2 linked regions of the Homo sapiens genome follow. The protein of the gene in region 2 purifies or fractionates together with the protein of the main gene of each other region. This does not show direct contact. Each region holds a gene or a part of one and is shown on either strand. Other genes may lie near its edges. The genes, in order: ARL6IP5 and ZDHHC22.

Evidence for each region.
Region 1: the proteins of ZDHHC22 (region 2) and ARL6IP5 purify together in Homo sapiens (affinity purification with mass spectrometry; one large-scale study listed by BioGRID and IntAct). This does not show direct contact.

Annotation. Positions count from the first base shown.
Region 1 is NC_000003.12:69,098,313-69,102,121, forward strand, and holds part of ARL6IP5 (PRA1 family protein 3), read left to right. Parts: intron 1-3,526; coding exon 3,527-3,744; intron 3,745-3,809. UniProt on the Homo sapiens protein: Regulates intracellular concentrations of taurine and glutamate. Negatively modulates SLC1A1/EAAC1 glutamate transport activity by decreasing its affinity for glutamate in a PKC activity-dependent manner.
Region 2 is NC_000014.9:77,138,823-77,143,385, forward strand, and holds the start of ZDHHC22 (palmitoyltransferase ZDHHC22), read right to left. Parts: upstream 2,970-4,563; 5' UTR 2,781-2,969; intron 1,923-2,780; exon of another isoform or gene 1,721-1,922; intron 931-1,720; 5' UTR 917-930; coding exon 391-916; intron 1-390. UniProt on the Homo sapiens protein: Palmitoyltransferase that could catalyze the addition of palmitate onto various protein substrates and be involved in a variety of cellular processes. Catalyzes the palmitoylation of KCNMA1, regulating localization of KCNMA1 to the plasma membrane.

The sequences.
Region 1 (3,809 bases), on a different chromosome or scaffold from region 2:
CGGCTCACTACAACCTCCGCCTCCCAGGTTCAAGCAATTCTCCTGCCTCAGCCTCCGAGTAGCTGAGATTACAGGCTCCCGCCACCGAGCCCAACTAATTTTTTGTATTTTTAGTAGAGACAGGGTTTTACCATGTAGGCCAGGCTGGTCTTGAACTCCTGACCTCAGGTGATCTGCCCGCCTCAGCCTCCCAAAGTGCTGGGATTACAGACATGAGCCACCATGCCCAGCCCAGGCCCAGCTAATTTTTGTATTTTTAGTAGAGGTGGGGTTTCACCACGTTGGCCAGGCTGGTCTCAAACTCCTGACTTCAAAAGATCCACCCACCTTGGCCCCCACAAAGTGCTGGGATTACAGGCTTGAGCCACTGTACTCAGCCTAGAAACTTCTACTTCTGAGCTATCTAACTTATATGATAAATCTACCTAACAGACAATGCATTATGTATTACAATTGCTTTTACCCACTCAATATATAATGTCTTCCCATATTATTAAATGCACTTCAATGTTTTAAAAATAGCTGTGTATACAATACCACAGCTATTGGTATTGTTGGCCATATAGGTCGTTTCTGAAAGTTTTTAATCATAAATACCACTAATATCAATACTGTTACAACTCAATCTTTGCGTTTTTGTTTAATTCCTTAGACTATATTCTGAGGAGGGGATTTATTGGCTTGAAGGATACAAGTATTTGCAAGGATTTTGAATGAAATTAGCAACTTATTATTGTAGAGTTTAGTTTTAAATTATGTACAACTGGCTGGGTGCGGTGGCTCATGCCTGTAATAGCACTTTGGGAGGCTGAGGGGCGGGGGGGGTGGGGGGTGGATCACATGAGGTCAGGAGTTCGAGACCAGCCTGGCCAACATGGTGAAACCCCGTCTTTACTAAAAATACAAAAATTAGCTGGGCATGTTGGCGGGTGCCTGTAATCCCAGCTAGTAGGGAGGCTGAGGCAGGAGAATTGCTTGAACCTGGGAGGCAGAGGTTGCAGTGAGCCGAGATCGCGCCATTGTACTCCAGCCTGGGCAATGAGTGAAACTCCATCTCAAAAAAACAAACAAAAAAAAATTATATGCAACTACTCTTACCACTGTTTAGCTTTGTGCATCTTAATAGAAATTTTTAGCTTTTTCAAAGCAGTTTGACATTGATTTTATCCCTTAATTTCACCCATTCAGGTGTGAAAAGCTTTTACTCTTAATTTTAAAATGTTCAAAATTCCTTTTATGTTTCAGTAGGCAGAAACAGAGCTAAAATTTAAAGGGATTTTTGAAAAAGAATTGTATTTATCCTGAATACGAATCCCAATATGAGCATGAGTTCTTCATCTCTTCCATTTCAGAGAAAGTAAGCTCTTGGCATCACCCTCCCTTATCCTGTCTTCCCCCTTCCCTCATTTCAAATCAGCAATGTTACTATTCAGGGCATGAGGAGAACACACTATCGTCTGTGTCCTTCCCAAGTAAAGTCCTCATTAGCCTCTAGGGTAAAAAGTTAAGTAACTCATTGTACCAGCCCACCACAGACGTCTTGTTAAGGGTTTTGTATACACAGTGGATTGGGGTGGGCGACTATAATGCCCAAAACTTTGTCTAAATTTCTTCTTCTTATTATCATTATTGAGACAGAGTTTTGCTCTTGTTGCCCAGGCTGGAGTGCAATGGCGTGATCTCAGCTCACTGCAACCTCCACCTTCTGAGTTCAAGTGATTCTCCTGCCTCAGCCTCCCAAGTAGCTGGGATTACAGGCATGTACCACCACGCCCAGCTAATTTTTGTATTTTTAGTAGAGATGAGGTGCCACCATGTTGGCCAGGCTGGCCTTGAACTCTTGACCTCAGGTGATCCACCCACCTAGGCCTCCCAAAGTGCTAGGATTACAGGTGTGTGCCACCATGCCTGGCATAAATTTCTTCTACATAATGTGTTTCCTCCATTATCAATAGTAGTGTAATTGCTATTACATACTAAACATTTGGCTTATATAAGAATGAATCTGGAACTGTGTGCTTGAAAATCTGCATTGGTAACTCATCTCCTAATGATACTTTGGGCATTTTAAAACACTTATAATGAACTCTCTATGTGAGGAGTCATAAACTCAAATGCCTCCATGGGGCAGGCAGGTTATGTAAGAGAGCGATTCAGGCCAGCTATTAGAAAAACAATGATTAGACTGGGCATGGTGTGGCTCATGCCTGTAATCCTAGCACTTTGGGAGGCCGAGCTGGGCAGATCACTTGACGCCAGGAGTTCAAGACCAGCCTGGCCAACATGGCAAAATCCCACCTGTACTGAAAATACAAAAAATTAGCTGGGCGTGGTGGCATGTACCTGTAATCCCAGTTACTCGGGAGGCTGAGGCACAAGAATTGCTTGAACCCAGGAGGCAGAGGTTGCAGTGAGCCAAGATTGCGCCACTGCACTCCAGCCTGGGTGACAGAGCAAGACTCTGTCTCAAATAAAAAAAAAAAAAAAAGAAAAACAGTGATTAATAGCACCTCACTTTGGGCCTATGTGTCCATGATGCAGTAGAGAGCAGTGTGGACTGGAGCTCAATGGAGACTGTTTATTCTGTCTGAATGAGAAGGCACTCAAGCCAGCTGTTGACATGTGGGAAAGTGGGCCTAGCACTGTTATTTTCTTGTTCCAGGAGAACAAGAAATCCCAAGTTTTCTGGATTTTTTTTTAACACATGGGTTTCAAGTAAAAGTTTTTTAAAACACTGTACAGGCCAAACAAAAATGTGACTGTATACTGGATCTAGCCCATGGAGGCCATTATGTGGCCTGTATTCTACATTCGTCCATCATGAGCTTCTCTGAGGATTTAAATAAACCTTTAGAGCTAAGAAAACACAACCTACTGTGTACTAGAGCCCAGGATGTAAGGAAGCTAAACATAGTACCTTCAAAAGAAGTTTTAGTCTTCAAAATTGTGGACCTCTAACGAGATACTTTGATGGGAACTGCCTGGGTGTGATCTCAGCTCCACCTTTTTTTTTTTTTTTTTTTTTAATGAGATAAGGTCTCACTCTGTCACCCAGCCAGGAGTGCAGTGGGGGAATCTTGGCTCACTGGAGACTCAACCTCCCAGGTTCAAGTGATCCTCCCACCTCAGCCTCCTGAGTAGCTGGGAACACAGGTGTGTGCCACCACACCTGGCTAATTTTCATATTTTTGTAGAGATGGGTTTTGCCATGTTGCCTGGGTTGGTCTTGAACCCCTGGGCTCAAGTGATCCTCCCACCTTGGCCTCTGAAAGTGCTGGGATTATAGGTGTGAACTACCATTCCTGGCCTTCCCCACCATTTTCTAACCTCTGTGCCTTAGCTTCTTCATTTGAGAAATGAACTAATAGTATCTCCTTTATAAGGTTATGAGAAATCAAATGAGACAATTTAGATAAAGTATTAAAGTATTAGTAAGTTCTCAATAATTGTTTTTACTCCTCTTTCTCCTTTTGCTACTTCTATTGCTGAACTAGTCACCCCTCATTTTTTCTTCCTCATATTTCAGGTTTCTGAGTCCCTTCAACATGATCCTGGGAGGAATCGTGGTGGTGCTGGTGTTCACAGGGTTTGTGTGGGCAGCCCACAATAAAGACGTCCTTCGCCGGATGAAGAAGCGCTACCCCACGACGTTCGTTATGGTGGTCATGTTGGCGAGCTATTTCCTTATCTCCATGTTTGGAGGAGTCATGGTCTTTGTGTTTGGCATTACTTTTCCTTTGCTGTGTAAGTGAACTTGAGTTTTTTCTTCCATCATCAAAAAAATGTAGAAGCAATTATCCAACGGGAAT
Region 2 (4,563 bases):
GGCTACATGGAGGAATGGCCAGCACCTAGTCCTGCCTGGCACAGAGCAGGTGTATTACCTGGATGCCACAACTCTGTGAGCATATGGACAGCATGATGGATGAGAATGATGGGGGCAAGGGGGGATGTTACCAATAAAATACAGCATGTCCGCTTAATTTGCATTTCAGATAGCCAATAGCAAATTTTCTCAGTGTATCTCATACAATATCTGGGACATAATTATACTAAAAAATTATGAGTTGTTTATCTGAAATTTTAATTTAGCGGGACGGTCTGTATTTTTATTTGCTAAATCTGGCAACTTTTGGGGTTGGGGTTTGGGGCCCGGCAACCTTTGGGGTGGGAGGTCTTTGTGTAGAGCCCAACCTGCCCGCCAAGGCCCACTCACCGGAGAAGAACTGGCTGATGGAGGTGGGCAGGAGCGTGAGGAAGGCCAAGGGGTGGGCGAAGGAGATGGAAAGGACAGCGGAGATGTAGGCCACGCCGGCCACCATGGAGTAGAGGCAGGCCAGGGAGGTGTAGAGGCAGAACAGGACGAAGTTGCGCATGTTCCTGCTGCCGATGCAGTTGCCGGTGAAGAAACAGTGATGGTCGTGCCTCAGGGTGACTCTGGCGCACACTCGGCAGAAGTGGGTGCTAGGTGAGGGGCATGGAGTCTTCCTGGCCGAGGCCCCCTGGCAGGCCCCCAGGTCGTCTGGGGAGTTCTGGATGACAAGGACGTAATTGCCCAGGGCGTTGGCCGAGAGGAATAGGAAGAGCGCCCCGTGGAGCAGGGCGGGCGAGAAGAGCCGGGCGGCCGCGGGGTCCTCGCGCATGCTGGGCAGGAAGAGGAAGAGCTGCAGCACGAAGGTCACCAGGGAGATGCACAAGAAGTAGGCGGGGGCCACCACGTTGAGCAGCCGCAGGGCCAGCATCCTCGATTACATTCCTGCGGGGCCCGGGGTGAGAAGAGGACTGACTGACTACGGCGTCCAGGGGGCGCCCTCGCCCGCTCCTCCGTGCCGCGCGTCTGGGGCACTGCACGCGACTCCACGCCCCCAACCCCCTGTCCCGCGGATTTCCCCTCCCCAGTTCCCTAACCCCGGATCAGGCAGGCCAGAGACCCGAGCCCGCAGCGGCCTCGGGTCTAGGCCCCACCTGGGGGTGAGTGTTGCCTGGGGTTTTGAGCGAGCTCGGCGCCTTGGCGCGGCAGAGTCTGGCACAGGAGGGAGGGACTCGTTTGCAGTCTTTAGGAGTTGTGAGGGTGGGGGGCACCGGGGGATAGGACTCCTCCCCTCTGTGGATGTGGAAACAAGCCCAGGTTTGGGATTTCTGGTTCAGACCTCCCTAGGAGGAGAAAGGGAAGGATTTGGGGTCGGGGGCAGGAGAATCAGCGGCACTTGACCTGCTGGAAATCCTGCTTCACACTCCCCTTTCTCCGTCCCTGCGTCCCCACCCACACACACATCTTGGGCAGCACTCAGGGACCTCACCAGGTTACCCAAGGCTCTTTGGAGGTATGTGTGCGTGAGGGACCACGATGTGTGTGTGTGTGTCCTTGTCTGTGACTCTGTACGTGTAATCTGTGTGCGCTTGAGTATCTGTATTTGTGTATGTATATATCTGCGTGTACAGACACGCAGCCTCTGCTATCTAGCTTTAAAAAAATCAATTGAAACAATCGATACACTCACACTCGCTCTCGGGCACCGGGTGAGGTGGGGGCGCAACCAGAATACCTGTGTCAGCGGGTCCTGGCCAGCACATCTCTCCAACGCTGGCTGCCCGGGCTATTTCTTTGCGAAGAGCGTTTTCATTTGAGGCGAAATTAAAATCCCCCCTTCGCGCCCGCCTCCCGCCCTCCTGCTGAGAGAAACCCAAACAACCCTCATGGCGCCGAAATCCTTTCCATGCCGACAAGCCCGCCCTGGGCGCACGAGTGGATGCTTGGCCAGCCTTTCCTGGGATCGACCCCGCCGCCGTGCTCAGCCCTCACCACGTCCCCATCCCACCCCACGCCTCACAGCCGGGGTTCCTGGCCAGCTTCGGAAGCCACCGAGAAATAGGATTCCGTGCGCCCGAGAGAACTTTTCCAGGGGCTAAGGAATCGGCCAGCCGGAGGCGCGAGAAAAGTTCTGGGAAGGCGGTTGCACCTAGGATGGGTGGATGCCACGGGGCCTCCGTCCAGGCTGTCCCGTCCGCACGGGTCGACTGGTCACCTTGGAATCCCCTTTGCAGGTCCCAGCGCCCCCCGGGAACCCGCAGCCTCCGCGGAGAGCGTGGGCCTCTCCCTACCGCTGGGGCGCAGCGCAGTGCACGCCTGAGGGTGGTCGCCGGGGGCTGGGCACGCCCCCAGTCCTGCGCCGCCGGGGGCTGCGGCGGTGCTGCCCACCCCAGAGAGCCCTCGGCCTGGGGCTCCGGCGAAGCAAGTGCCTTCCCGGCGCCGGTCGCCAGGGGGGCGCGGGAGCAGCCAGATGCGCCGCAGCGCTGGGAAGGCGGCGAAGGACAGGGGCTAGGGGAGTGAGGGGCGCTCGGCAGGCAGCCTCAGCCCTGGCCCTGCGCGGGAGAAGGGACAGCAGAGACCGCCCGTGGGGCCCCGGGGTGTAGGGAGCTGTCCGTTCAGCCCTGGCGCCCGCCTCGCCCGCGGCAGAGGGCGGCACAGCCGGAGCCTTGGAAAGACCGGCAGCGCCGGCAGCCGCGGGCTTCTCGGCCACTGCCTCCCGGACGCACGGGAAGCCGCCCCCCGCGCCGCCGCCGCCGCACTGCCGCCGTCGCAGAGGGGTGAGGAAATCAACTCACCGAGCTCTGGTCGCCGACAAGAGGAGCCCCGGACGCCGGCTCTCGCCCTGCCCGAGGCTGCAAAGTTGTGGACTCGGCCCGGCTGGCTCGCAGCCTGCGCTTCGCTTCGGGAACTGGGCAAGTAGCGGGGATGTGGGGAGGAGGGAGCGGGCAGCTGCTGGCTTCCCACTTGGGCGCCAGCGAGTAAGGGCCAGGAAGCGGCGGGGATGGCAGCTGGGCACCCCCCAGCCCCGCCACCCCTCCCTCCGCTCCTGGGGGCGGTGCTCTGGCCGCCAGTCTCAGCATCGTGGACTTGCCCCCTCCTCCCCTCTCGATTCCCCTTGAGCGGGCTGGGGCGCCCTGCCTGGTTTCAGCGCCCGTTCCAGCTGGGAGATTGGGATTCAGCCCTGATGTGGATTCTCCAGCCATCATCCTGCCCTTCCCTCTCGGCTAGGTCCCACGACCTTCCCTGCTCTCCACTCGGACTGAAGGAACCCTGGGGGCTTGAGAGGTCAGCTTGCCAGGGCAACACCCATGAAGATCAGCGTCATCTCCTCGGAAGGGCTGTGTACAGAGGGTTGGGAGTTGGGACTCTGGAGCCTGTCTACCTGGGTTTGAATATTCACCATTCACTACTGTGAGATCTCAGATTCCAGTTTCTTCGTCTGTAAATTCCAGTGTGATCTTAGATTCCAGTTTCCTCATCTGTGAAATAGAGATATGAGGGTTAAATGACAATCTATGTAAAACCCTTAAACAGGGCCTGCCCAGGGCAAGCACTGCTTGATTAGATCATAATTAGACACTACTTATCGGGCCCCTACTAGGTAGCAGGCATTGTGCTAAGCCTTTAGCATAAGATGCTTCCTTAATCCTCTCAGCCTGATCTGTGAAGCTGGCTGAGCCCCATTCTGGAGATGAGGAGGTTGAAGCTCAGAGAAGCTAAGTCTCATGTCTAAGGTCATACAGCCATTAAGTGACAGAGCCTGGACTTGAACCTGGTTCTAGCATTAATGCTCCTGCACTCAGCCTCTACACAGCCCAGCATCACCCTGGGACCCACGGGCAGCTCTGATTTGAGAGAAGGAAAGACAATGGGAGTTTATCCAGACACAGAGCTTGAACTTGGAGCTTCTTCTTTGAGCCTCACCCCCACCTTCTTATTTCTATTTCCTTCCCCTTCCAGGGCTCCGCTATTCTAAGGTGGGTACTGTGATGCGCCAAGAGGGTAGTGACACCAATGTGTATCAAACAGTGGGGGGTGGGGGGAGCAGAGCCTTAAAAACATCAAACACTGCAGGAATATTGGTGCCATCACCATCCTCAATTTCCTGGGTGTCGCAGCTCACCTACCTGCCCTGTTCCTCTCCTCTCGGTGATGGCATACTTAATAAATAAACATTTATTGCTTTCTCAACTGGCTGATTAAAACAAGAGCAATCCCTTGAAATGAGGGCCATATGCTGATCAGCTCAGCCTCTATTCTTGAATAACCACACACTGTTTCCTCTGTAATTTATCAGCATACATCAAAATAAAAAAGAGGCCAGGAAACCTTTTCACATTCTAAAAGGATCTGACATGTAAGTGAAAGAACAGTATATGCCACATGGTGGCCGTGAGCAGCTGGTAGCCTTGTGAGTTCCAGTGGCCACAGGACAGACATGGGGAGGCACACATGGCCCTTTTCCCTTCAGAGCAGCTTTGTCTCATAATCGTGGCCGTCTGGGCCCCTTTTCACAAGCTCTGTCTGCCTCTCACATGGGCTTGGCAGGGAGGGAGGCTGGCTGGGGTGCTTGGGTTT